Homo sapiens: one gene and its partners. The protein of the gene in region 3 interacts with the protein of the main gene of each other region in a pairwise test. Each region holds a gene or a part of one and is shown on either strand. Other genes may lie near its edges. The genes, in order: INSYN1, RINT1, C19orf25 and EPS8.

Region 1 (7,984 bases), on a different chromosome or scaffold from region 3:
TGAACTGTTTTATTTAGTCCTCAAGACAGCTACCAGGAAGGTATTTACAGAACGAGAAACTTAGGCTTGGGAAGATTAAATGAGTCACATGGTTAATGGAAAAGCTGGCATTGGTGCCCTATCATTCCAACTCTACTGCCTAAGTGTTAGGCAGTGCTTCCATTTCTCTCTGTAGACTCTCTCTACTGTCTCTATTATCTGTTCGAAGCCCAAACATGCCCACTGTCACCCCGGCACTGCTTCCCTGGTGTCAGGATCCATTGCTTCTGAGAATCTAGCTTGCAGACTGAATCCTCGTTCTCTCCTGAGCTGCATGCCAGTCTCAGTCCTGCGCTATTAGAGAGAGTAGACTGCAGACTAAATAAAAACAGTTACCATTTCTTACCATTCTTCCAACTCCTGCTCCCTCACCCCCACACCCCAGGCACTGTGCTTGGTGCTTTTTGCTCCTTATCTCATTCCATCCTCAAAGCAACCCTAGGCAGTCACTAGTACTTTGCCTATTTTATAGACAAAGGATCTCAAGTTCAGAGAGGGCAAGTAACTTGCCTGAGATCACACAGCTAGCAAATGACAAAGCTGGGGCCCAAATCCAAGTTGGCCTGTTGCAATAATCTCCCAAATGCCCCCACTTCCCCTCCATGGCCACAGGGCAGCAGGTCCCAACCCTCTGGCTTCAGGATTTGGAGACATCTTACCCCATCTGGGAACCCAATTACTCAGTCAATCATTTAGTCAGCTCATTTAGTATTTCCTGAGTGCATCTGTCAGGCTCCAGTTGGTTACACGAGACAGAGACCCCACCAAACGAACTGGAGCAATATGAGGAATTTATCAGCTCTTAGAGATGAGTAGGATGTTGTTGCAGCTCTCCAGACTGAAAGAAGAACTGCAGGAGTGAAGGCCATGAGAACAAAAACTGGGACTCAATGCTGCTAGCATGCTCTCTAAATTCCTCTCCTCTCTGCTGCCTTGCTCAGCTTCCTAGATTGAGTGGGAAAAATGGCTTGTCAGCAGGTTTGGACCATAACATCCAGTTTTGCACCCCACTAGGAAGAGGGGTTCTTCCTCCCAGCATCCACATATCAATCCCAGGGAAAGAATCTGATTGGTCCTGCTTAGGTTATGTGCCCACCCCTTGGACCAATCACTGTTGCTGGAGGATGGGGTTCCACGGTTGGTGCAGTCTGAGTCACATGCCTAGTTAGTGGCAGTGGGATAGGGATGGGTGGGAGTAGTGGGCACTTTAACTGACAACCCACTAGGATTATGTGATGACAGCAGGGAGTTTCCCCAAGAAAAGGAATGCTAGAACTGGATGGTGGAAAACAGGCAGACAGGTAAAAATCGCTGTCTACTGTCTACTGCAGTGGTCCATGTGAGAGATGGGCAGACACACACAAGCCCATCATGAGGAGTTCACAGACTCACATGGAAATAAGGCTTACAGACATGAAGCCATGAATAAGAGCTGATAGCAGCTACCATTTACAGAGCACCTACCAGGTGCCAGGCACTGGGCCAAGTACTTCCATGTGCATTATCTTATTCCATGTTCACAGTGACCCTGGAAAGTAGTCATTATTGTCCTGATTTTTCTGAATCAGAGAGACAGTGAAATACATCCCCCCCCCTTTTTTTTTTTACAAGAGACCCAATTCAAGAAAGAATTAAAATGTTTATAGGCTGCTATCCTTGCTCAGAGAGGTTAAGTGACTTGCTCAAGGTCACACAGCTAGCACATTAAATGAATGCCCTGGGAAGCATTTGGTTAAGGGCAAAAAAAAGTGCTTCCATTTCTCTCCGTAGACTAAAGCACTAGGGAAGGCTGCCTAGAGGGTGGAGGTTGGCGGTGAATAAGCAGAGATCTAAAGGATGGGACATCTAGGCAGGTGGCCAGGGAGGTTGGGTGGAAGAAAGGATGGATCAATCCCCAAACACTAAGGAAGGCAGGTCTGAGCACCACCCAGATACTATCTATTCCCTCTCGCCTGTGGCAGCTCTTTGGAGATTTACAATCAGAGACCCCTTCTCCTGAGTCTCCTCTTCTCTAGCCTGCTCTGACCAGCCCTACCATCCTTCATAGAACATATACACCAGTCACCTCCCCTATTCTACTTGGCTGTCCTCCTATGGACACACCCAATGAATTGAGGTGCTAGGCACAGTTTGATCCACACAAATGACAGAAGAAATGTTACCTCCCTTTTTCAAAACACTGTGCTTCTATTAATGAGACCCGAGATCAATTATGTATTAAGCAGTCACAGTCCACCCTGTCCAATCAAGCTCACTGTCTCCTAACCTTGCCAGTTCAAACACATCTCCCTCATCCTGGATGAGGGCGGATGATTCCCTGGACCTAAGACTAGAAACTCTTTTTTTTCAGGCTTAGCCCATTTTTGGTCTCGGCTGTTCCTTAGCATCACTGCTTCCACAAAAGTGATTGGTGAGACTGTGTGATTCCACTTATATGAGGCACCTAGAGTAGTCAGAGTCACAGAGACAGAAGATAGAATGGTGGTTGCCAGGGGCTGGCGGGGGGAGGGGTGATGGAAAGTCACTGTGAGATGGAATAAGATAATGCATGTGGAAGTACTTGGCCCAGTGCCTGGTGCCTGGTAGGTGCTCCACAGAGAGTGGCTGCTATCAGCTCTTAATCACAGAGTTTCAGTTTGGGATGATGAAAAGGTTCTGGAGATGGGTGGTGGTGATGGTTACACAACAATGTGAATGTACTTAGTGCCACTGAACTATGCACTTACGAATGGTTAAGATGGTAGATTTTAGGCCGGGCGCAGTGGCTCACGCCTGTAATCCCAGCACTTTGGGAGGCCGAGACAGGCGGGTCACGAGGTCAGGAGATGGAGACCATCCTGGCTAACACGGTGAAACCCCGTCTCTACTAAAAACACAAAAAAATTAGCCGGGCGTGGTGGTGGGTGCCTGTAGTCCCAGCTACTTGGGAGGCTGAGGCAGGAAAATGGCATGAACCTGGGAGGCGGAGCTTGCAGTAAGCCGAGATCGCGCCACTGCACTCCAGCCTGGGTGACAGAGCGAGACTCTGTCTCAAAAAAAAAAAAAAAAAAAAGGTAGATTTTATGTTACGCATATTTTGCTACAATTTTTTAAGTGATTGGTGGGCCCTCTGGATCCACCCCATCAGAAGAACATCTCCCCAACCCAGGGCAGCTGGATTCCCACCCTCACAGCTTCTGGTTCTCCAAAGGCAACCCCTGAGCTGAATCTCAAGGAAGTAGGAGTCAGTTCCCCCAGCAGCCCCCTGTGAATACATCTCTGAGATAACTCAGAGACCAAGGAACATCATTAGCACCCACAGTACCATCACTGTCTCTGGAATTCAAGTCCCCCATGGGCCAGCCTAAAACCACCACCTAGCCCCACCTCCCTTGACCCCTCCTCTGCCTCTAGTTCAAGATCTCTGCTTCCCCGCCACTTAAACTTTTGAAAATGTCATCTGTACTCACTCCTGTTCCTCACTGTTGGGCACATAGTCCTCGATGCCCAACAGTTTGGTTCCTGTCACCTTCTACCCTCCAAAACCAATTGCCCCTGCCATGTCACCCGTGGCCTCCTGAGTACCAAGACAAATAGACACTTTCTGTTCCTTCTCTCACAGCCACTCCCTGCCGCGTTCGACACTGATGAGCACTTGCTTCTCCCAAACTCCTCCTACTGGGCCTACATAACTCTCCACTTTCTGGTTCTTCTCCTATCTTTCTAATCACTCCTCCCTCTCACTCATGGACTCTTTTCTGAGGTTCCAGCCCAGAACTACTGCTTTTGTTACTTCTACGCAGCGTCCCTGTTCATCTCACCCCTCTAATGATGGTTCAAAAAAAAAAACAAACAAAATGTTACTCTCAAGCCCCAGCCTCTCTCATGAGCATAGATTCATAGACTCCACTGTCTTCTGGCCAACGGTGAAATAGCCTCCTAACTGCTCTATCTCGGTGGCACCTCCTCACACCCACTCACAATGCCCCAGAGGGGTTTCCTGAGAAGGCAAGCAGGCCCAGGTTCCTCCCAATATCAAAGCTCCCTCCGCCCCGGGATAAAATCTAAGCTCCTAACCATGGTCTCTGAGTCTCTCTGTGGTCTGCAGTCAAAATGGTATCTAAAAGGCCCCAGTTAACTTAAACTCCCCTCCTCCCATTTCTGCTTCTGAGCCTGTGCTCCCACCCTCCTCCCTGCCTGGAATGCTGATCCCCAACCCCCCACACTGACAGTCACTCCTACTCCTCCTTTGAGATTCAGCTCAGGGGTGGCCTACCTGGCAGAACCCGCCAGGCCCTGGCCTGAACTGCACCACCCAACCCACACTTCCCTACTCCCCTGTTAACATTGCTTCCAGAATTTGCCTCTGTTGTGACTCAGGAGTGTCCCCGAGCCGTGAGCTTCCTGAAATGCTCTGGTGGCCCCGGAGCCTAGCATGGAACCTGATGCACAGAAGGCCTCTAATACATGAGTCAATTGTTGAATAGCTGAAGGAAACGATGGGTGTCCAAGACAGCCTCCAACCCCCAGCCCTGCCGACCCAGAGCTTGGCACACAGTAGGTTCTCAGGAAAGGTTGGCAGTATTCTATTTTCTGAATGAATGTGATTTCAGGCAAGGTCAGGGGCTGGGTTATGTGGGTGGTAGAAGGGAGGGTCTGGATGCGGGAAACGTGGCCAAAAGGGAAGCTTGGGGGCAGTGCAGTAGGGGAAGGGGGCAATGGGGGTGTCTGGAGAGGTGGGAAAGGAACGAAGTCCCCAGAACGCTGTCCCTCCGCGCCCCAGGTCAGCCGGCGTGGGGTCCGGTCAGTCCGCCTCCAGCCCCGCCAGCGAGACCCTTCCCCCTCGCCCGGGTGGCGAGACCCCCCTGGCTCGCACGCTTGGCCCTCGGGGTTGGGAGGCGTGTGTGTCGCTTTAAAAGCTCCCTCCCGGCGCGGCGGGCCGGCCCCTTCCCTGACAGCGCCGAGGCAAGCGGAGCCAAGCGAGCCGGGCGGCCTTTAAGGGAGCCAGCGCCCGCCCGGGCGGCCAGTCCGGCGGGGGGCGGCGGGGCGGGCCGGGGGCGGCCGGGGCGCGGGCGGCGCGGCGCCGCGGCGCTTGGGGAGCGGGCCCAGGCCCCGGGAGCCCGGCGGGGCAGGGCAGGGCGAGGCGGTGAAGGGAGGCCCAGCCCCGACCCGGCGCCTGTTTGCCCCACCGGCGGCGACCCGGCGCCCGGGGGCTGCTGAGGCGGGGAGCCGAGAGCGAACGGACGGGAGGTAGCGGAGCCGAGCGGAGGCTGCGAGCCTAGTGCGCCCCGGCCCGGCCCGGCCCGCCGCTCGCCCCCTCCCCTCCCTTCCCCTCGCCGCGCCTCCTCCCCTCGCCTCTTCTCGCCTCCTCTCCTCTCCTCCGCCCGGCGCTGCTCCCGCCTGCGCCCGGGCCGCCGAACCCAGCCCGGCCGGGGCCCCCGGCTTCGCGCGCTCTCGGCTGGGCCCGGCGGGGACCGGGTCCCCGCGGCTGACATCGCCCCTCCTCGGGGACCCGGTGGATTCCGGACCTTTCGGAACGTGAACTGAGCCGTGGGAGCGGTCTCGCCCAGGGCCGACCGCGGGGCTGGGCTGAGCAGACCCTCGCGGCCGCTCCGGACGCCGCGGGTGCCGGGGCACGGACGTTCTGGGTCCGGGCTGAGCGCGTCCCGGGCGCCCGGCGGTGCCAGCTCACTCCGGGCGGGGTAGGGCAGGGCAGACCCCAGCGGAACACGGACCCGGCCGATCTGGACTGGACAGAGCGAATCCCGGACGGTGCAGAGCCCGGGGAATGCCGGGCGTGGGCTGAGGGGATCCCGGCGCCCTCCCAGCCCTCCGACTTTGGCTCACGCGCTGGGACCTGCCCGGCGTCTCCTCGGCCTCCCCGCGCCCCGGTCACCTGTGGCCTCGGAGCCCCAAATCTGCCGGACCCTCGCTCATTCCCGACCCCGAGCCTGGAGAGGCTTGAGAAAGATTTTTCCTGCCCCCTTCCCTGGAGCGCGGAGGCCCCGCCCCCTCCCACCGCCCAGATGTCTCCGGTCACGGCTCGGAGGACCTCCCTGAGGCCCGGGGCCGAAGGGTCCAGAGAGAGAAGCCCGCCCTAGGGAGCCTTGGGGGCCCCCCAACTCCGTCTTGGGGCTTGGCCCCCGACGCTGCTTGGAGGGAAGGCCGGTGCCCCCACCCTCGGTGAGTCCAGGAGTGGGGGTTCTGAGGGAAGGCGGGGCTGGGGGAGGGAGGGTCCGCTGGGAACGAGGGCACCCTGGGGGCGCTAGGAGGGAGGATGGGTGACTGGAGAGGCCCTCTGGTGAACCAGCCTGGGCAGGCCTGGCTGGGGGGAAGGTGGGGGGGGAGGGCGGGAGCTACGGCCAGGGTGCCCCGTAGCAGGCTGAGGACTTCTGCTTCTAAAGCAGGGGCTCCCTCCCTTTCCCTCTAGAGGAGGGGCTGTGCTGTAAACCGTCTGCCTCCACCACCCCTCCCCACAAAGAAAAAAAAATCCCCAGCGAGGAAGGGTGCAGGCTGGCGAGAGGAGGGAGGCAGCGGCATTGCCGGCTGGTGCTGCAGCCTGGGAGGGCTGACGCCAGGCTCGCTCTCTCCGCAGGGGGCTGCCCTCTTCCAATCCAGCTCCCTCCCCAGAGCTGCCCATATCCGGAGCCCCTTCCACATCTGGAAGACCCTGGCCACCATCCCTCTGCAGGTGTCAGTTGCATCCAGAGACCTCTGCCTTTGCAACTGCCTAGGAGTTGTGAGGGGATCCCTGCTGCCTTCCCCCATCCCAAGGGCATCTCTTACCCTTAGTCCCTGCAGAGTCATCCCCCTGCCTCTGTGTTCAAGCTCAGGCAGAGATCAGCTCTGCACACCCACAGGCACTTCAAGACCTGGAGGCCACTCCTGGGACCCAAGGTCCCTCCCCCTCCTCTCCTGTGTCCTCACCTTGACCCCCTCTGCTAGACTCTGTCTCCCTCTGGGTGTCCCACTCTCCACCCAGAGGCAGAGGAGGCTGGGTGGCAGGGGGCAGGGGCTGGTTGAGGGCCGCCCAGGGCCAGGGTGGGCTGGGGGGCCGTTAAAATGTGGAGCTCTGCCCAGCCGAGGGGGGCTCCGTGGAGGCAGACGCAGTGTGTGCCCAGCTGGGGGGAGTATGGGCAGGCCTGCGGCCACGTGGTAAACGATGAACATTCGGGGCGCCCCGGACCTCGGGCAGCCCAGTGACGACCCCAGCAGTGGTGGTGAGCGGGAGCGGATTCGACAGCGCATGAAGATGGTCATCGGGCAGCTTGAGGGCATCCTTCGCGAGCTCAAGGAGGTGGCCAAGGAGCTGAGGGAGGTAAGTGAGGGGTGAGGAGGGACCAGACAGACCCTAAGCCAACCTTCTTGGGTTTGGCACAAAAACGTACTCATAAATACGTTGGAGTGTGCAAAGCTGCGTGCACATGTGTCACTCTACTGGGGACCTTCTTTCTCCTTGCTCTCCTTTCCGCAAATCTGCTTTGCTAAAAATCTCATCAGACCCCAAGGCTGGAGGGGCCTCGGTGTTGTAGAGGTTACTTGAGCAGCATGTCAGTGGGCCTGGAGCTCTGGGTTAGCACAAAGGGCTGCCAAGATGGCCAGTAAGGACTGAATCCCGCCACAGCTTCTTAGTGGAAGACAACCTTCTGGGACCCAAGCTGACCCTTGAACCCACCATCTGTCTCCCAGACTCTGATCTGGTCACAAGGGACCCTGGGAGAGTGCAGATAGTTGTGCTGAGGTGGTTTCCACTGCTTGAGGCCCAGCTCAAAGCATATCCCTAGAAATCACACAGATACTGAGAACCCTTGATCTTGGAAAAATTTAAGCCAGCTATGTCCTCTTTGTCCGGGGGTAAGAATGGGTCTGGGGGTGCTGTAGTGGATAACAGAGTTCCTTGCATATTTTGGCAGGGGCAGGAGTCTTCCCTAAGGGGATGCGAGTCTCCATCCCACTGTTCTAAATA
Region 2 (5,002 bases), on a different chromosome or scaffold from region 3:
TTTCATTTATATGAAATGTCCAGAACAGGCAAATCCATTGAGACAGAAAGTCAATTAGTGGTTGCCTATGAGTTGAGGGAGTGGGGAGACGGTATTAGAGGATAACGGCTTTTTTCTTGGTGATGAAAATGTTCTAAAATTGTGATGGATATACAACTGAATATATAAAAAAATCATTGAATTATACACTATTATTAGTTTTGAGATGGAGTCTCACTTTGTCGCCCAGGCTGGAGTGCAGAGGCATGATCTCGGCTCACTGCAACTTCCACCTTCCAGGTTCAAGCTAGGATTACAGGCACATGCCACCACACCCGGCTTATTTTTGTATTTTTAGTAGAGTTGGAGTTTCACCATGTTGGCCAGGATGGTTTCGAACTCCTGACCTCAGGTGATCCACCCACCTCAGCCTCCCAAAGTGCTGGGATTACAGGCATGAGCCACCGTGCCCGGTCGAATTATACACTTTAAATGGGTGAATTGTATGACATATGAATTCTATTTCAAACTGTTAAAAAAAAAGTATGCTAATGTGTTAACATGTTTTTGCTTTCAGTTCTTTCTACAACTTCAACAGGCTGCACTGGAGGTGTTTGCAGAGAATAATACTCTGAGTAAATTGCAGCTAGGACAGCTAGCCTCTATGGAGAGCTCTGTCTTTGATGACATGATTAACCTCTTAGAACGTTTAAAGCATGATATGTTGACCCGTCAAGTAGACCACGTTTTTAGAGAAGTTAAAGATGCTGCAAAATTGTATAAAAAAGAAAGGTATGTCCTCTATGTAAGTCAGCTCTTAACACCAGTTTGGTAAAAGTTAAAGAATATGTGGTCAGATTTTCAAGGTGTCTAGATAGAACCCGGTTTGGCCTTATGTACTTTATTGTTGATGGAAATATTTCTAAAGTATGTTCTCTTGGACATTTTTTTTGAGACAGTCCTACTCTGTCACCCAGGCTGGAGTGCAGTTGCACGATCTTGGCTCATTGCAACCTCTGCCTTAGAGGTTCAAGTGACCTTCCCACCTCAGCCTCCCAAGTAGCCAGGACTACAGGCATGCACCACCACACAAGGCTAATTTTTGTATTTTTAGTAGAGATGTGGTTTCACATTTTGGGCAGGCTGATCTCCAACTCCTGACCTCAGGCAAGCCACCTGCCTCGGCCTCCCAAAGTGCTAGGATTACAGGTGTGAGCCACCACACCTGGCTGACATTCTTAATCAGAATAAACTGATTATAATTTAGTTGTTTGTAAATATATCAATAGGATAGTGTGTGATCTGGGGTTGAATAGCCTAACCTGTCTCCCATTTTGCAAAGTAAAGTGCACCTGTGGTACTCTGCATACTTTTGTTGTGGTTTATCCCACTACCATTCACTGTGAACACCTGTGTTACTTTCATCCTTGATAGCAAGCAGTATCTTTTTGTCCTAGCATAGTCCCTGCCACACAGAGTGCTTAAAATTCGTTTATTAGTCCTGTTTTTACTAAAAATTAGAGGATAATATTAGCTGATGTCTTAATTAAAATGCTAAAATCAGGCTGGGTGCAGTGGCTCACACCTGTAATCCCAGCACTTTGGGAGGCCAAGGCGGGCAGATTACTTGAGGGCAGCAATTCGAAACTAGCCTGGCCAACATGGCGAAACCCTGTCTCTACTAAAAAATTCAAAGATTAGCTGGGCGTGGTGGTGGGCACCTGTAATCCCAGCTACTTGGGAGGCTGACACGAGAATTGCTTGAACCCTGTGGCTCTAGCCTGGCCAACAGAGCGAGACTCTGTCTCAAAAAAAAAGAAAAACTACATAAATAAAATGCAAAAATTAAGTGACATTTTAAATTGTAATTGCCTTATATCAGTAATTCACATATTAAAATTTGGGGATATTTTGGATATATCCCCATATTAAAGAGTATTTGAGAGTGAAAATATAAATACAGGTACATTTATTTTCTGATAGAGCTTTTAATGTTAGGCTGTATATTTTTTCTTATCCAAAATGCCCTAGGACAGAACACTTCCTCAAATTTAAAATGATTTAAAAACTTGAAAAATAGAAACTGATGAAAATTTTTTGGTAAAAATGTGTTTTTTCCAGATGGTTGTCCTTGCCATCTCAGTCAGAGCAGGCAGTGATGTCCCTGTCCAGTTCGGCTTGCCCGTTGCTGCTGACGTTACGAGACCATTTACTTCAGTTGGAGCAGCAGCTTTGTTTCTCCTTATTTAAAATTTTCTGGCAAATGCTTGTAGAGAAGCTGGATGTATACATCTACCAAGAAGTAAGTAAGAATAGACTGTTTTTGGGCTGTGATAATAAAGACAACTGTTATATGAATTATTCTTTGTTTCAGATAATTCTTGCTAATCACTTCAATGAAGGAGGAGCAGCCCAGCTGCAGTTTGATATGACTCGGAATCTTTTCCCTTTGTTTTCTCACTATTGCAAGAGACCAGAAAATTATTTTAAACAGTAAGCTCAACATTTAACAATTAATATTAATGTATCAAATTGTTACAGGAGGCTAACTCCTTTTAACTTTAGGGTTCTGGAGATGTTTGGGTGGGATAAGATCAGTTGAAATTTTAAAACATTGTCTATCTACTGTATGCTTACAGCACAATGGGGAAACCAAGATGATAGATGTGACCCATGACCTCAAAAAGTTTCAGAACTAGATATAAATTACCTGTTGGGTTTTGTTTTCTAGTATTTGGTTTAATGCTTCTAGTTGCTTAGTTACTGGAGGAATAAATAGAAAATGAAAACAAGTACAGTTGTGCCCTATTCACTAAATATAAGAAATTACAGGGCCGGGCGTGGTGGCTCACGCCTGTAATCCCAACACTTCGGGAGGCTGAGTTGGGCAGATCACAAAGTCAGGAGATCGAGACCATCCTGGCTAACATAGTGATACCCCCATCTCTACTAAAAATACCAAAAAAAAAAAAATTAGCCAGGCCTGGTGGCGGGCACCTGTAGTCCCACCTGCTTGGGAGGCTGAGGCAGGAGAATGATGTGAACCCGGGAGGCGGAGCTTGCAGTGAGCCAAGACTGTCTCAAAAAAAAAAAAAAATTACAAATATGTTTAATACCTAATAGGCCAGGCCTGAAAGAAATTTGTTTCCTTAAACATTTGACATTAATTTTGGTTCTAAATATAATTATAGTTTCAGAATTTGTTGATCTAAAATTTATAGGCCAGGCATAGTAGCCCACATCTGTAATCCCAGTACTTTGGGAGGCAGAGGTGGGAGAATTGCTTGAGGCCAGCTGTTTGAGACCAGCCTGGGCAACATAGCAAGACTCCATCTCTACAGAAAGTATTAAAATGAACAAACAAAAAAAAGCCAGGTGTGGGGGTGTGGACCTGTAGTCCTAGCTACTTGAGAGGCTGAGGCTGTAGTGAGCTATGATCGTGCAGTTTCACTCCAGCCTAGGTGACAGAGCAAGACCATGTCTCAAAAAAAAAAAGTAAAATTTAAATTATGTTTGGGTTTTGTGAGGTTATAAAGCATTCCTTTTAGACTTATAAAATGAAAGCTTATGTTTACACGTTTCATAGGACTGTTTTTAAAATTTATTTTAATGTTCTTTCTGCTGCTTTCATTTATCTCTTATTTTTGTCTTTTCCCATGTTCTAATCTACCTAAAGTTATAGCTATATTTAATATAGTGTTAATATTAAGTATTGTATTTAGGGAAATAACGGATACATATTGAAATAGGGATCGTATTACCTTATAGTAATCTAAAGAAATAGCAACTCTGCACCTGTGTAGTCTTACCATGTTAAAAGAACCAAATAATAAATCCATAAATATTTTTATAGAGAACATGTGGACCAGCAGTGCAGAGAAGCTGTTTAGGATTCTCAAAATTGTAATATAATTGATGCAGATAATGGAGATCTCATTTCCCTCCTTTGTTTTCCCTAAACAGTATAAAAGAAGCCTGTATTGTTTTGAATTTGAACGTCGGTTCTGCACTACTGCTGAAAGATGTACTGCAGTCAGCTTCAGGGCAGCTTCCTGCCACAGCAGCATTAAATGAAGTTGGAATTTACAAACTGGCTCAACAAGATGTTGAGATTCTACTTAATTTGAGGACAAATTGGCCTAATACTGGAAAATAATGTCTTTCAGAAAAAGGTTTCTTTGGTTTTTGTTTCTAAGAAAGAGGAAGCCAATTGGATTTCAAGTTATATGATGAAATTCTGAATTAATGAAACTGGAAAACTTTATAGAATTACTTATTATCTTGGATTTATGGTGTTATTAAAATGCTGACCATATTTCCTTCATCCTCTTGTTCCTAAGGAAACAAAAACAGAAAACGAAACAATGAAAACTCAATTCTATTTACAAGTATAAATGCTGAGTATGTCTGTTGAAGACGAGCAGAGATATTAAATTATAACCAACTTTCAATTTCCTGTGCTAATTAAGGGAAATTCTGTTGTGGATAATCAAACATAGCCAATAAATTTTTTTAAAACTCCCTTTGAATGCATATTTGTAATTGAGGCACCTGTATCTAGTTTGGGAATTAACTGTATTTCCATGAGGAAACTGGCAGGGCACAGTGTCTCATGCCTGTAATCCCAGCACTTTGGGAGGCTGAGGTAGGAGGATTGCTTGAGGCAGGAGTGCGAAAACATCCTGGCCAACATGTCAAGACCCTGATGCATGCCTGTAGTTCTAGCTACTTGGGAGGCTGAGGTGGGAGGCTAGCTTGAGCCCAGGAGGTCAAGACTACAGTGAGCTCTGATTGTGACACGGCACAGCAGCCTGGGCAAGCGAACAAGACCCTGTCTCTAAAGAACAAAACAAAACACATTGTGAGATGGTGAATAAGATAGGATTGTTCTTCATTTCTCACAAATGCCCTTCTATTTTAAATGCTTCCTAGTTTCATTCTGTGTGACAGTGGGCAACCCTTTCTTTCTGGATGAAACATTTCAGGCCATGGCACTCTGACTCAAACATTCCCATGTGGTAGG
Region 3 (7,697 bases):
CCCTCGGCAGTGTGGTCTCCCACGGACGAAGGCTCCACGTGCCGCACGGGTCTGGGCTGATCAAATCACCTCTGTCATCACCTGCTTTAGCAACAGGGTGGGAAAGGCCGGGCAGTGCCTGGATGAAGGCACAGGAGGCCCCCTACCTTCTGTGAGCGCCCCCCGTCCCCCGCACAGCGTGCCTCAGTTTCGCCACACTCAACGGCCATGGACCTGAGCCCATGAAGCTCAAACCACGGCCCCAGCACCCTCAGGTGACCGAACTGCATGCTGGGAATAAAACCAACTCATGCACCTTGACCAGTACCGGCCCACAGAACCTTCCAGATGATGCGCACACCTCCCACCGATGCTGGTCCACACCAGCCACCAGCCATGTGTGGCTCCTGGGCACTTGAAATATGTCTAAAGGGAAAACACAACTCAATTTTTCTCTTTTTTTCTTTTTCAGAGACAGGGTCTCACTCTGTCACTCAGGCTGGAGACTCCAACTCCTGGGCGCAAGCAACCCTCCTGCCTCAGCCTCCTGAGTAGCTAAGACCACAGGTGCATGCCACCACACCCAGCTAGTTTGTGTATTTTTGGTAGATATAGGTTTTGCTATGCTGCCAAGGCTGGTCTTGAACTCCTGGCCTCAAGTCATCCTCCTGCCTCAGCCTCCCAAAGTCCTGGGATTACAGGCATGAGCCACTGCACCTGGCCCCAGAATTTTCTAATATTACTTTTTAAAAATGTTCCCTTAGAAATTCACAGTTTCTATCATTCCACATGGCTCATTTTCTTTTTTCTTTTTTTTTTTTGTTTGAGATAGAGTCTTGCTCTGTCACCCAGGCTGGAGTACAGTGGCACGATCTCAGCTCACTGCAACCTCCGCCTCCTGGGTTCAAGCAATTCTCCTGCCTCAGCCTCCCAAGTAGCAGGGATTACAGGCATGCGCCACCATGCCCAGCTAATGTTTTTGTATTCTCAGTAGAGACGGGGTTTCACCATGTTGGCCAGGGTGGCCTTGAACTCCTGACCTCAAATGATCCGCCCACCTCAGCCACCCAAAGTGCTGGGATTACAGGTGTGAGCCACCGCACCTGGCCGATTCATCTTCATTTGTTTCCCGCCAGCCCCAGAACAGCCTGGGGCAGACATTCTTGTTTCTTTTGTTCACTTGTCCATTAGCAGTGCTCTAAGCGCAGAGCCCAGCACACAGGAAGTGCTCAAGAAAAGGATTGTTGAATGAATGAATGAGCCTCATCCAGAACACAAAATTCACCCAACTGCACTGCTGAATCCTTTGGTCTCTGACTAGCTTCCACCTCGTAAATCAGGAGTGGACAAGCTTTCCTGCCAAAGGCTGGAGTCTCTGCTCCCACTACTCAACTCTGCCCTTCTGGTGTGAGAGCAGCCACTAACCGTATGTGAATCATTTGGCTGTGTGCCGTAAACCTTTACTTACCAACACTGAAATCTGAATTTCATACCTCTTTCAGGTGTCAGAAATGTTCTTTTTCACCCACCCCCATTTAAAAATGTGAAGTCCATTCATAGCTCCCAGACCTTAAAAAAACAGCCAGGGGCAGGGTTTGGGGGGCCCTAGCTTACCACCTCTGTTTTACTTTATTTATTTCTATTTATTAATTATTATTATAATTATTGAAACAGAGTCTCACTGTGGTCCAGGCTGGAGTGCAGTTGCGTGATCTCAGCTCACTGCAACCTCCGACTCCCAGGTTCAAGTGATTCTCCTGCCTCAGTCTCCTGAGTGGCTGGGATTACAGGCCCATGCCACCACACCCGGCTAATTTTTGTATTTTTAGTAGAGACAAGGTTCCACCATGTTGGCCAGGCTGGTGTCCAACCTCTGACCTCAAGTGATCCACCCACCTCGGCCTCCCAAAGTGCTGGGATTATAGGCGTGAGCCACCGCACCGGCCACTTATTTATTTTTGAGACACAGTCTGGCTGTGTTGCCTAGGCTGTATCCTCCCACTTTAGCCTCCAAGAAGCTGGGGCTACAAGTGTCCACCACCACACCCAGTAATTTTTTTTTTTTTTTGAGACAGTCTCGCACTGTCACCTGGGCTGGAGTGCAGTGGTGCGATCTCGGCTCACTGCAAACTCTGCATCCCGGGTTCAAGCGATTCTCCTGCCTCAGCCTCCCGAGTAGCTGAGATTACAGGCGCCTGCCACTATGCCCAGCTAACTCTGTTTTGTTTTTGTTTTTGTTTTTGTTTTGTTTTTTCATTTTTAGCAGAGACGGGGTTTCACCATGTTGGCCAGGCTGGTCTCGAACTCCTGGGCTCAAGCGATCCTCCCGCCTCATCCTCCGAAAGTGCTGGGCTTACAGGCCTGAACCACAGCGCCCGGCCTCCACCCCTGTCAGAAGAACCCTCTGAAAATCGGTCCCACTCTACGGAGGAGTAGAGGGAGACTCGGAGAGGATACGGACCGTGCCCATGTTGCGGGGGTTCCCAGGGCGTGGGGTCAGGAGTTAGGGGTGTGCTTCTCTCCCGTCCCCTTGCTGCCGGGGTCTCAGGTCCGCTTTTCCCCGGGACCGGGCTCCCCCTACCTTCCGGGGCCAGGATGGTGAACACTGGATCCTCTGCCGGCGCACCCCGCACATCCTCCAGGATCTGCTCCACCGTGGGGGGCGCTGGGCGGGTGGGCAGCAGCACGCGCTTCTTTGCCTTGGAGCCCATCTCTGAAGGCGGGGAAGGGGGCGCTGACCGGGGCGTCCACCTCTCCGCCCTTGCCCGGGCTGCTCCTCCCGCCCAGCGAACTCGTACGCACCCGTCGCGGTCCCGCTCCCGGGGAAGCCCGCCCTGTCCCGCCCCTCTGAGCTCGCCCCAGGCCCTGACCCTCCCTCCGCCCAAAAACACGGTGGCCAAGGCTTCAGGGTCTGGCTCAACCTCTGCCTCAGTTTCCCCGCGGTCACCCCAGTCGCCGGCCTCTTCCCACCTGGGCGCGGGACCCGAAAGCCCAGCGTCGACGACGCAGCCACTTCCGATTCCGGTCGGAGCACCGCCCCGTCCCCGAACACGTGACACACACTTCCGGCCTCCTCTCCCGCCGGCCCGCCGCTCATCGCGGGGCTCCGCCCCGTCTTAAAGGGATAGTGCCCTTGAGACTCGGATCTCAGCCTCTCAGGCGAACCCGAACCTGGACGCGCTACGATGAGAGCGAGTTCGAGTCCAGGCTCCACTGGCTGGGTAGAAAAGCATCCGAGGCTCGTCTTTCTGAAAAGGGGAACACGGCACTAGGGGACACGCCACCCATGTGGCTGACGGGAGCACAAAATTGCTGTCCACCTAAGGGAGCCTGGTGGTGCATGAGCACTCGGCGGCCGGAACACAGCGGGGGCGGGGCGGTCGCGGCGCCTCCACTTCCGGCCAAGGCGGGTCCTCCCACCTCGGGGACGGTGCTGGAGGTCACCTTTTCCTCTCCGCTGATGCCTGGGAAGGCAGAAAGAGCAGAGGGCCCTTTTCCTCTCTCAGGGGCTTTATTGAGATGCAGTTTACATACCATAAAGTTCTCCTGTTTATTTCGTTTTGTTTTGTTTTTTTAGAGACAGAGTCTCACTGTGTCGCCCAGGCCGGAGTGCAGTGGCGTGATCTCAGCTCACTGCAACCTCCGCCTCCCGAGTTCAAGCAATTCTCCTGCCTCAGCCTCCCGAGTAGCTGGGACTACAGGCGCCCGCCACCACGTCCGTCAAAATTTTTTTTTGTATTTTAGTAGAGATGGGGCTTCACTGTGTTGCCCAGGCTGGTGTCAAACTCCTGAGCTCAGGCAATCCGCCCGCCTCAGCCTCCCAAAGTGCTGGGATTACGGGCGTGAGCCACCGCGCCCGGCCAAATTCGCCTGTTTAAACTGTAAATTCAGCCTGGGCGCGGTGGCTCATGCCTGTAATCCCAGCACTTTGGGAGGCCGAGGCGGGCAGATCACTTGAGGCCAGTTTGAGACCAGCCTGGCCAACATGGTGAGACCCCGTCTCTACTAAAAATACAAAAATTAGGCTGGGTGTGTTGGCTCACGCCTGTAATCCCAGCGCTTTGGGAGGCCGAGGTGGGTGGATCACGAGGTCAGGAGATCAAGACCATCCTGGCTAACATGGTGAAACCCTGTCTCTACTAAAAATACAAAAAGAAAAACAAAATTAACCAGGCATGGTGGCGGTTGCCTGTAGTCCCAGCTACTCAGGAGGCTGGGGCAGGAGAATGGCATGAACCCGAGAGGCAGAGCTTGCAGTGAGCCGAGATCGTGCCACTGCACTCCAGCCTGGGCGACAGAGCAAGACTCTGTCTCAAAAAAAAAAATATTGTTGAGAGAGAAGGAAGGAAGGAAGGGACAGAGAGAGGGAAAAGGAAAGAAAGAGAAAGAAAGGAAAGAAGGAAGGAGAAGAAAAAGGAAGGAAGGAGAGAGAGAAAGAAAAAAAAGAAAAAGGAAATAAAGAGAAGAAAGTAAAGAAGAAAAGGGAGAAAAGAAAGGAAAGGAAGGAAAGAGAAGGAAGAACGGAAGAAAGGAAGGCGAGAGAGAAAGAAAAAGAAAAGAAAGAGGAAGAAAGAAAAAGGAAAGAGAAAGAAGGAAAGAAAGAAAGAAAAGGAAAGGAAGGAAGGGGCCAGGTGCGGTGGCTCAAGCCTGTAATCCCAGCACTTTGGGAGGCCGAGGTGGGCGAATCACGAGGTCAGGAGATCGAGACCATCCTGGCCAACATGGTGAAACCCATCTCTACTAAAAAAGGAAGGAAAGAGAAGGAAGAAAGGAAGGAAAGAAGGAAGGAAGTAAAGAAAAGGAAGGAAGGGAGGGAGGGAGGAAAGGGCCAGGCACAGTGGCTCACGCCTGTAATCCCAGCACTTTGGGAGGCCAAGGAGGGAAGATTGCTTGAGGCCAGGGTTCAAGGCTGCAGTGAGCTACAATCGCACCACTGTACTCTAGCCTAGTCAACGTAGGGAGACCCTGTCTCAAAACAAACAAGAAAAAAAACAAAGGAATCACCGCAGGAGAGGATTCTGGGCCATGGTGAGCCATGTTCTGGGGCTGGACATTACTGCTGACCCCCGGCCATTCCCTGCTGTTCCCACTGCCTGGGGTCCCTGGGCCTGGGCGGACTCTTTCTCCGTGGCCGGCTGCATTCTCCATGGACTGATGTCCGGGGACCCCAAGCAGAAACCACCTGAGCCCTGGGGCCTCGGGCCCACCCTGCTCCAGAGGAGGCCACAGACTGAGCACCTTCTAAGCAACCTTTATTTGCAAACTCTGAGGTTGGACGCGGTGCCCGAGGCGGACAGTGTCACGTTTCTCTCCCTCCACTTTCCCCTGGCTTTTGGGGTGCTCCAGCCTCTCCCCCCAGCCCACTCCCGCCCAAACCCAAAATGCAGAGGAGACTTCTCTCTCTCTCTCTCCCGCCAGGCTTCGGGGTTCCACGGGGCCCATCCCTGGCAGGCCAGGCGTCGGGTGCTGGTGCTCGCTCCTCTGGGGCCAGCCTGGGGAGGCAGCATGGCAGCAGTGCCTGTCAGGGACCCAGGCGGGGGCAAGGTCGCTTTCTGAGCTGACAACTTCAGGTTCCAGCTGGCAGCCAGACCTGGGGTTTGGTGGGGGTGGCCCTGGCACGGGAGAGCCAGGCGTATAGTGGGAGGTCCATGGACATGCCGCAGAGGACGGGGCCTCCGAGGGTCACGGCCAGGAGGCTCAGCACCATGGCCGAGGCTGGGCAGCGGTGGTGGGGACAGGCGGCAGCTCTAAGCCGGGGGCGGCTGTCGGGGGTGGTGGGTCCCATGCAGGAGCCCTGCTGCTGGTCCAGCGTGGAGGATGGGGGACAGGAGGTGCAGTCCCTCGGGGAGCCGCCGCGGCAGGTGTAGCAGGAGGCATGGCAGCTGGAGCAGACCCTCAGCGCGGGCGCCGCCGTGTGCCCAGGCCCAGCGGTCACCAGCCTTGTGTGGTTGAAGAACCGCGGGGGGCAGTAGGCCAGGCAGAGCTGTCCCAGGATGTAGGCGGGGCCGTCACACGCTGCTCGGGGACACGCACGCAAAGGCCCGTCAGCTTGCCACCCGCAGCCTGTTACTCGCCACCCGCCCGCCTGGGGCCACATGCACGCTGCCCACGGTGGCCGCCACCGCCTCCCAGCAGTGGGCCCTGCCCCGCCGGCACTCACCCTGGCACAGCCCCTCTGTGTCCCGCTGCACACACGCGCTGCTGGTCACCTGGGGGCCTGTAGGCCGCGCTGTCATGTCCTCGGCCGTCCCATAGAGCAGCAGCGTGTAGCGGTACAACGTCCCTGGACAGGGGTCGCGGGTGGGCACAGGAGGAAAAGGAGGCTCTCGGCAGCCTGGTCCTGGTAGTCCCCGGGCTCCCTCCCCTTCAGCTCCCACGCGGGGCCCTGGACTGGTTCACATCTCTCAGGGAATTGCACACCTACTGTGCGCCTGTCACTGGACACCGACATCTCCCGGGTGACTGCACACCTACTGTGCGCCTGTCACTGGGCACCTACATCTCCCGTGTTACCGCACACCTACTGTGTGCCTGTCATTGCACACCATCTCCCGGGTGACTGCACGCCTACTGTGTGCATGTTCTCTTGGAGAAGGCCACTGGGAACCCCTTTTGCAGTGCGGTCACCAAGGCTAGCTCCAGAGCCCCTGGGGGGAGGTTGGAGAGCCAAGCCCCGCCCACCACAGCCCCGCCCCGCCCTCACCCGTGTTGAAATAGTAGCCCTTGTTCTCTAGGCCCAGGGTCCACACGCCCTGTGGGTTCTCATCCCAGAAGTGGGTGGACATGAAGACCCAGTTGTTGTAGCCTTCAGTGCTGACGTCCAAGGGTCTGGGACAGAAGGGTGGGTGGGGGTGGGGGTGTCAAGAGGGATGGCTTTGTGAAGCCGGCAGAGCCCCATGAAGTGTCTGACCGCACGCGCTGGTGGCCGCGTGTCCTCTGGGTGTGGGTGAGGGTGTGACTCGGGGTCCCACCAACTAGGCTGCCGTGTGACTCCTATGGGCCTGGCCCCTCCCCGTGAGGACACTCCGGGTAGATGGCAGCGTTTACCGACAGGGCATGAGGCCGCCCCCTCTCCTCTGCGGGCCGCTCACCGTATGGCCACGAGTGTGGAGCGCGTGCCCATGGGGCTGGTGAGCGAGATCTCCAGGTCTCCGCGCCGGCTGTAGGACAGCGTCAGCTGCGCCTGCACGTGCTCCAGCGAGCGGATGGAGTTGTGGAGGCCGGCGCAGGCCGATACGTTTTCCCTGATGTAGATCAGCGGCAGGATGGGGCTGAGGGGGTCGAGGGGTGAGGACCCTCCTGCGGCCTGCTGGGGGGTGGGTGGGCGGCCAGCAGGCGAGGTCGGGGCTCAGAGGTCACGGGGTCCAGCCCTCGTTTTACAGATGGGTAAACTGAGGCCTCAGGCCTGTCCCCCACACCCCCAGCGGGGATAGCGGAGGGGCGCGCAGGGGTCTCACGTGGGGCGGCTCTGGACCCGGACGGCGCACTTCCTCTGCGGCTGGGTGGGCAGCCAGGTGCGGGCGGTGTCCACCAGCAGCCCGGCGTCCAGCAGCCCGTATCCGTAGTGATGGCTCACTGCGCGGAAGGGCAGCAGTCACTCGCCCCGTGGGCCCCGGGTCCCCGCCCCCGCCCGGCCCCGCCGCACCTTGGCGCCCCACGCCGTTGGTCCTCCAGTCCTCGGCCTGCAGGTGCGCCGGCTTGGACGCGCGGACCACCAG
Region 4 (7,250 bases), on a different chromosome or scaffold from region 3:
TCTAACAAACTGTCACAGCCAAGAGGAGCCTAGGGAGACATTACGAGGAAATACATTTAGTGGTGTCCTGGATGGTAGGGTCCTGGAACAGAAAAAGGACATTAAAAACTAAGGAAATCTAAATAAAGTATAAACTTTGTTAATACTAATGTACTGATACTGGTTCATTAATAGTAACAAATACCAATAATACAAGATGTTAATAAGAGGGGAAGCTGGTATGGGGGTATATAGACACCGTATTTGTAGCTTTCCTGTAAATCCAAAACTTCTGAGAAATAAGGTCTATTTTTTTAAATCCCATTTAGGAATACATCTAGAAAATACTGAAAAGGTTGTAGTGAAGCACTGAAGACCCTTAAACTTTCTTGCATATATTCAACTTAAAATGTTTGCAACTATTCCAATGCAGAATTTTTCTTACAAAAATATTTTCAATCACTAACAGCTGCAAACAATTTCATGTAGTATTAATAATTCCCAGGAGGGATTTACTATAGCCAGAATACTTTAATTAAAATTCCACTTTTTCCCCCGACATACCTCTACAGATGTCCAAAAGTTTGTACCTTATCATTAACTTATGTTGTTTTGTGATGATCCGTGTAACTACCAAGTATGTTTCACACAACTCAGGAAAGCTGAGTTGTATATAAATATTACATAAATCAGTGTTAAAATATTCATCCAATAGAACTTCAAGTATTTAAAGAGACAACTTTTAAAAACCTATCATTTCCTATTCTGGATACTATGTTTTCTTATACAAACCTTGGTTCAAGTGACCTGCTGCAGAATTAAAAGAGGTATGTAAAAGAAGGGAGTAGAGAGAAGAATAAAAAGCAGTAGGGTAAAGGGTGTGAAACAGAGTGTAAGAAAATAACTAGGATTTGGAATGTAATAAACACAAAGTAGAGAGTAGCAAGCCTATGCCATAGCATAGAAAAGAACTGGTATCTGAAAAGAATCAGTATTGATAAAACCTTGAAAGCAGGAAAAAGCTAGAAATAAAAACAAAATAAATCTTTAAGTTTGATCACAAACAAGCAAAATATTCAAAATTAGACATTAGGTTCCTGACAGGAAACAAAAGAAACATCACCCTATTAAGAGTGGGGCTACTAACAGTATAAGTTAAATTACACTTACTGGAAATTACTATATAATATTCAATGACATTGGGAAGTGAAAAAAATTACAAAGAGAATGCACCAAGTCTTGTAAACAGCGGTTATCTCAGAATAGTAGAATTAAAAGCAAATTATATTTTCCTTCTTTTTTTTCTGCTATAAAGTGAATGACTTGTGGTGCAATCTTACAAAGTCTCAATCTGTGTATTCTGCAATAAAGGCATTATATTATCACTATTGCATTTGTGATACATTCTACCTTACCCTTTATGTGACAATTCTATACTGTTTTAACTGTCAAATTGTAAGTAAAAGTGTGAATTCGTGACCAAAAATTTTCCACACCAGCAACTTAAGAACTACAGCAATATGTTTAGAAAACTGCGATCCCAAACAAAAAATCTATACTAGGTGAGACAGGATGACATTGACTTTAATTCCAATAGACTCACTACCACATGACGTCCATTACTAGTGCTCACTTTCCAGAACCCAAGGAGCTGTGGAAGAATGGAGTCCTTTCAATGAAAATAAACTAGAGGCAATACACAACACAGTTACTTTGAGGGGCTTTTTCAATATAAAGAAGATTGCCCGGAATCCTAACTCTCCTATTTCCCAAAAATGACAAAGCCAAAAAGTCACACTCTTCACACATCTGAAATCAAGTTTTACCTGAACTCATCCTAACATATTAGCTCTTTTACCTATTCCCCTTACTATCTAAGGCAAGAAACCTTGAAAAGAGAAGCAGTAACACATTTCACTGAAACATATTTTGTAAAGGAGGATTCTAATTCCTAATCCTTCACCGCTCTAGATGTCTGCGGATTTCAAATCCTAACCACGGCGTCCTGCCCCCCGCGAGATTCCAACAGTACTACGGGCCCTATGGGAGGAGGAGGATTTGAGAAACACTGCCGGAGAACGGTCGGTGCAAAGATTTTGCAAACAGGTAGTCCTAGGAAGGAAAGTAAGAGTGAGAACATCGGAGAGGGCAGGGAGTACATGGGTGGGGAAACCCCTTTCAAATGCATGAACTGACCACAACCGGAGAAAGGCCGTCTGTCTTCCCAAAAGTAAAATGGTGAGTAAAGTGGAGCAAGCTAAGAAAGTCAACAGCCATTAGGCATTGACAACGATTCCGAAACAATTAGCTATGTTAATTCGAGGGGGTAAACGGGGGTGGGACCCTGCCCTAAAGGGTCATTTTGAAAAGAACCCCTCCCCATTTGAGGCGGGTTGGCAGAGCAGCGCACAAATCCCAAGTCTAACGTAATAAGCCGAGATCGGGATACTCGGTCTGCAGTCGCCCCACGGACCAGATGAGCGCAGGTGTATCTGCGGAAGCTCAGGTTACCATGAATATCACTGGGCCACGGCGAACCCTCCCTGCCCAGCCTCCCGGAGCCCTGGGCGCGGGTCTGCACGGGCCCCACAGCTTGCCCGGACCCGGCGAGCGGACGCCTCCGGCCGCAGCGCCCTACCGCACCTGGCTGCCAACACCAGTTGAAAGCAGTCAAAGTGAAGGGAGGCGGACGCGGCTCCTGGCACCGCTCCGATTCCAGCACACAAAGGCGGATTTTTAAAATCGAGAAAGTCAAAGCCGCCGGACCCCGGGACCGGCGCCTTTCGCCAAGGGGCTCTTACCTCGGATCCGCCCTCGGGGCCACGGCTTTCCCCGGAGACGCCGCGAGCCCAGACGAGGTGGGAGGGGACCGGGAGAAAGCCCCCCAATCTGATTCGCGCCCAGCCAGTCGTCCGCGAGCCGCGGAGCCGCCTTCTGCACCCAGCTAAAGAGCAGCGATCTCCGAGGCGAGCACAGCGCCGGCCTCGCGCCGGGCGAGACCGCCTCGCTAGCTGCTGCCTGTGAAGTCTGGAGCCGCCCGCCCGCTCGCAGCCAGTGCCAACCGCGCGCCGCGCATGCCCAGTGCCCGCGCGAGGAACGAGCGAGCGGGCGGGCGGGCGAGTGCGCGCCCCGCAGCCAGGAGCGAAATCCGCTATCCGGGTCTTGCCGGCAGCCGAGCCGCAGAGTTCTGGTCGACTCCAGCGCTTGAGGCGAAGTGGCCGGTGAGGCCGGGTGGGCGGGAGAGGGACCGGAGGAAAGGAGACGGGGCGCTGCGCCAAGTTATCAAGGCCGCGATCAAAGTCGGACCAAGGCAGCGAGTCGACAGCAGGTTTCCAGAAGTGCCCTAACAGGACTGACTAGCAGCCAGGAGGCGCAGGAAGGGGCAAAGAGCGTGTGGAGAGCTTCGCCCCCGGCGAGGATGGACGCCCCGGGCGGAGGGAGCGCTCGGGTTGCAACACCCAGTCTGGCTGCACAGCTCGTAACCCCTGCCCTTTGGCGGCAAACAAGACGCATCTAATGACCAGCCAGCCTTCGTCTTCCTCCTCTGATCATCGGACCTATTTTCCCCCTTTTGTCGCTCTCCTCTTTTTTTGTCTCTCCAACCCATGCGGTAAACTGGTGGTGCCCAAGGCCCTCCATCGGGTCCCTGAGAGTCTCCCAACTGCCGGTCCTTAGCGCCAGCCTGCAAGCCCAGACCCGCCTCGCCAGGCTGCCTGTGAGCCTATTTTTCATGTAGCTCTTGCCAAAAGCCCTGATGTGGTTTGAAGTAGTGGAGGCTTCTTTCACTTTGTGCCTCTCGTACCTTAACCAACCCTCATAACCTCCTCTCTGAGTAGCTCATGGAGCCTCTAAAAGAGAAGTCCATGTTCTCATAGACATTGTGTTTTCTCACTCTTAAAACTCCTCATTGTCATAGCTACTCCCCCAATCCCCCCATGCTGTCCTAACTTCGAAGTCAGTTGACTTCCAGAAGTCCACGAAAGCCTATAAATTAAACTTGGTTAAAAGAGATTGGACTTGCTTGCTTTGTGAAGCAAATAAAAGCACAGTCAGGGAGAAACGACGTAACATGCCAAGGTGGACATTCAAACCATTCTAAAAGTTGGAATCGATATAACGGCTAAGTCCAGTCCCCTATTTTAAGTGGGAATACTCTCTCCAATATTTCCACCAGACCACTATCCACTTGAACATTTCCAATGTTGTAAATTTCTATTTTTATCATTACATATAACCATGATTATTTGTTGAATATTTACCTATGCCAGGAACTGAGCAACTTACACACATTATTCCTAGTCCTTAAAATGAGATGGGCCTTATTATACCTATTAAACACATTAGGAAAATGAAACCCAGAAGTTTCCTTCTTTTTGCCAAAGCCAATGCTGACGCCAGAATTAACAACCAGGTCTGCTTAACACTATAGCCTGTATCATTTATGAACATCAAATCAACTTCCCTGATACTACTGGTCTTGGTTCTGCCCCTAGGAACAACACAATATGAATCTCATTCTTTATAGACACTGCAAGCCTTGAAATAGTAGGGGCAACTATTAAGTAACCAACAGATCTAATACATTTCTTCAAAAATTCTCTTTTAAGTGTTTTTCAAATAGCAGTGAGCTGCCATAATCACACTATTCACCTTGCTTTGAATGTGTTTTGATTTTCATTCTCCTCTCTAAATTGTGCACTGAGAATACAATATTCAAATACAGTGGGCCAAGAACTGAGTTCCAGTTCTCCAGCTGCTGATCAGCCACCCCTTTGATGCAAGCACACACTACCTAGATTCAAACAGAACACCCAAGTCTATTTCACATCAACTAAATTAAACCGTATCTTCCACCTTTCATAGTCTATACTTCTATGTATTTAAATCTTGATTTTTGTTTTATTCTTATTAAATTTTATCGTGTTTGTTTTAGGACACAATTTCAGATAAATACTAGTGATCACTTTTAACATTTGTAAATTTAATAAGTATGCCTTGTTTGGCTCCATTTACGTCTAGTAAGAAACAGTAACACAGAACGGGCTTTAAAAAGGCCTGTGATATTATAAAATATATATTTGGTCTTCATCCCATTTCCAGACATATAGCTCCTAAAATCCTTGAAATCTCCAAAGTGATGAACATCTTTTTGTATTTGAATGAATTGGCTGATGGCTGGGGGCTCCAGCATAGCTTCAGGATGGGGACTGGTCATAGGAAGGACCAAGGCATGATTAGTGTGTTGGAACCTTCAGCCCCACCCTCTAACTTCCGGGGCTGGTTAAGCTGATCACCAATGGCCCATGACTTGATCAATCATGCCTACGCAATAAAGCCTCCACAAAAAAAAAAAAAAAAAGAATGGGTTACATGCACTTCCAGAGAGGGGAACATGAATAACTAAACGGAGATTCCTGGATGGCGGTGCTCCCAGAGAGGGCATAAATCACCCTATGCATCTCTTCAACTGTATCCTCTGTAATATCCTTTATAAGAAAATGGTAAACATGTTTCCCTGAGTTCTGTGAGCAGGTCTAGCAAAATAACCAAACTCAAGGAGGGAGTCACGGGAACCCTAATTTCTAGTTGTTCAGCCAGAAGCACAAGTAAAGCCACCTGGGGCTTTTTTGTTTGGCATCTGAAGTCAGGGTAGTCTTGTGGGACTGAGCCCTCAACCTGTAGGATCTGACATTATCTCCAGGTAGATAGTTTCAGAATTGAATTGAAGACACCCAGCTTGTGTCTGCTGCAGGATTGATTGGTTGATTGCTGGTAGGGGAAATTCTTACACACTTCTTGGTAACCAGAGCTTACAGAAGTCTTCTATGTTGATTGTTGAATAAGAGAACAGAAAAAAACACTTAGGTTTGGGGTTTCTTTTCCCCTGTATCTTCAGACAGCCCACTGCCAAAATAGATCTCCAAGGTAACAGTCATTTATGAACCAACACTTTTCAAGCACTTTAGTCCATGCACCCATACCATAACCAACATGGAGTTCATGAAGGTTTTCTAGATGCTTTGCTGAAATAAAGATTTACTGTTTCTAGCATCCCCAAATCTACTGGTCCAAGAAACTCTTTCAAAAAAAAAAAGGAAGCTAGTTAAATAAGATCTGTTTTCAGATTAACCCATTCTGGTATTAGTGATCCCACTAAAACCATTGTTAATAATCTGGTTTATACTTTTGTTAAGAATCTATGTCAAACTTACCTATTTAGAGTATCACTATACACAAGTTTTTCCTTTTTGAAAATCTCATTAGTATATGTTGGCATTTGGGATGAAAATGATGTAGGAATGATGTAGAATGGAGATAGATACCTGGAGTGAATGGGGCATTCAAAATATGGTGCAGGCCAGGCTCATTGGCTCACATCTGTAATCCCAGCACTTTAGGAGGCCGAGGCCAAACGATCACCAGAGGACAGGAGTTGGAGATTAGCCTGGGCAACATGGCGAAACCCCATCTCTACTGAAAATACAAATATTAGCAGGCTTGGCGGCACACGCCTGTAGTCCCAGCTACTTGGGAGGCTGAGGCATGAGAATCACTTGAACACAGGAGGCAGAGGTTGCAGTGAGCCAAGATCAGTTGACTGCACTCCAGCCTGGGTGACAGAGCAATACTCTGTCCCAAAATATAGGAGCAGAGTCTACAGCTGGGTATAAATGCTACATACAGAAAATGTGGAGAAATTATAATGACTGAATTCTATCTGGGGAGTAAGAGCTATCTCCACATTACCCAAGAGTCAGAATTCTTCAAACATCCCTGTTCACTCCCACTCCCCAATCTGATGTATGAATATAATTTAGGGACTGCTGTGTATACCTCTGTAGACTCACAGCCTTAAAGCCATATAACATAAAACATATCCATGAGTAAATCTAGAAAAGGTACACTGTAGCTTAGAATATTATTATTATGATGATCTAAATCTTCTAAGTGTAACTTGGTAGACAAGTAATTTCAGGTTGGCTATCACCCTTGTTATTATTTCACACTGTTGAAAGAACAAACCAAATTGCTTGGATTATTATATTTGTTCTCACTTTAGGAGGTGCTTGGGCTTGCTTCTTACTTTGTAACTGATGTTTATATTTCTTGTTAGTTATGTTTCTTTACACCCATTTGGATTAACAAACTCAATTTGCTTTAGCCTTCAAATGTCAAAATGCCCTAATTTCTTTTGTAATATGTAATTAGAAATGTATGGAAATTTTGAAGCATGATAGGAAGTATTCTTAACATGGAAATTTTTTCCAAAT

What was found.
Region 1: the proteins of C19orf25 (region 3) and INSYN1 interact in binary tests that used the Homo sapiens proteins (3 or more experiments, as listed by UniProt).
Region 2: the proteins of C19orf25 (region 3) and RINT1 interact in binary tests that used the Homo sapiens proteins (3 or more experiments, as listed by UniProt).
Region 4: the proteins of C19orf25 (region 3) and EPS8 interact in binary tests that used the Homo sapiens proteins (3 or more experiments, as listed by UniProt).

Annotation. Positions count from the first base shown.
Region 1 is NC_000015.10:73,750,327-73,758,310, reverse strand, and holds the start of INSYN1 (inhibitory synaptic factor 1), read left to right. Parts: upstream 1-4,959; 5' UTR 4,960-6,201; intron 6,202-6,448; exon of another isoform or gene 6,449-6,613; 5' UTR 6,614-7,180; coding exon 7,181-7,336; intron 7,337-7,984. UniProt on the Homo sapiens protein: Component of the protein machinery at the inhibitory synapses, probably acting as a scaffold. Inhibitory synapses dampen neuronal activity through postsynaptic hyperpolarization.
Region 2 is NC_000007.14:105,563,177-105,568,178, forward strand, and holds the end of RINT1 (RAD50-interacting protein 1), read left to right. Parts: intron 1-556; coding exon 557-771; intron 772-1,947; exon of another isoform or gene 1,948-2,100; coding exon 2,101-2,281; exon of another isoform or gene 2,282-2,353; coding exon 2,354-2,472; intron 2,473-3,146; exon of another isoform or gene 3,147-3,942; coding exon 3,943-4,135; 3' UTR 4,136-4,277; coding exon of another isoform or gene 4,278-4,314; 3' UTR 4,315-4,501; downstream 4,502-5,002. Other genes in the region: EFCAB10 (EF-hand calcium-binding domain-containing protein 10), read right to left, coding at 2,373-2,439, 4,291-4,314. UniProt on the Homo sapiens protein: Involved in regulation of membrane traffic between the Golgi and the endoplasmic reticulum (ER); the function is proposed to depend on its association in the NRZ complex which is believed to play a role in SNARE assembly at the ER.
Region 3 is NC_000019.10:1,476,214-1,483,910, forward strand, and holds the start of C19orf25 (UPF0449 protein C19orf25), read right to left. Parts: upstream 3,003-7,697; 5' UTR 2,950-3,002; exon of another isoform or gene 2,927-2,949; intron 2,693-2,926; 5' UTR 2,691-2,692; coding exon 2,561-2,690; intron 1-2,560. Other genes in the region: PCSK4 (proprotein convertase subtilisin/kexin type 4), read right to left, coding at 5,546-5,994, 6,140-6,262, 6,683-6,807, 7,071-7,250, 7,437-7,554, 7,625-7,697.
Region 4 is NC_000012.12:15,786,381-15,793,630, forward strand, and holds the start of EPS8 (epidermal growth factor receptor kinase substrate 8), read right to left. Parts: upstream 3,009-7,250; 5' UTR 2,781-3,008; exon of another isoform or gene 2,623-2,780; intron 1-2,622. UniProt on the Homo sapiens protein: Signaling adapter that controls various cellular protrusions by regulating actin cytoskeleton dynamics and architecture. Depending on its association with other signal transducers, can regulate different processes.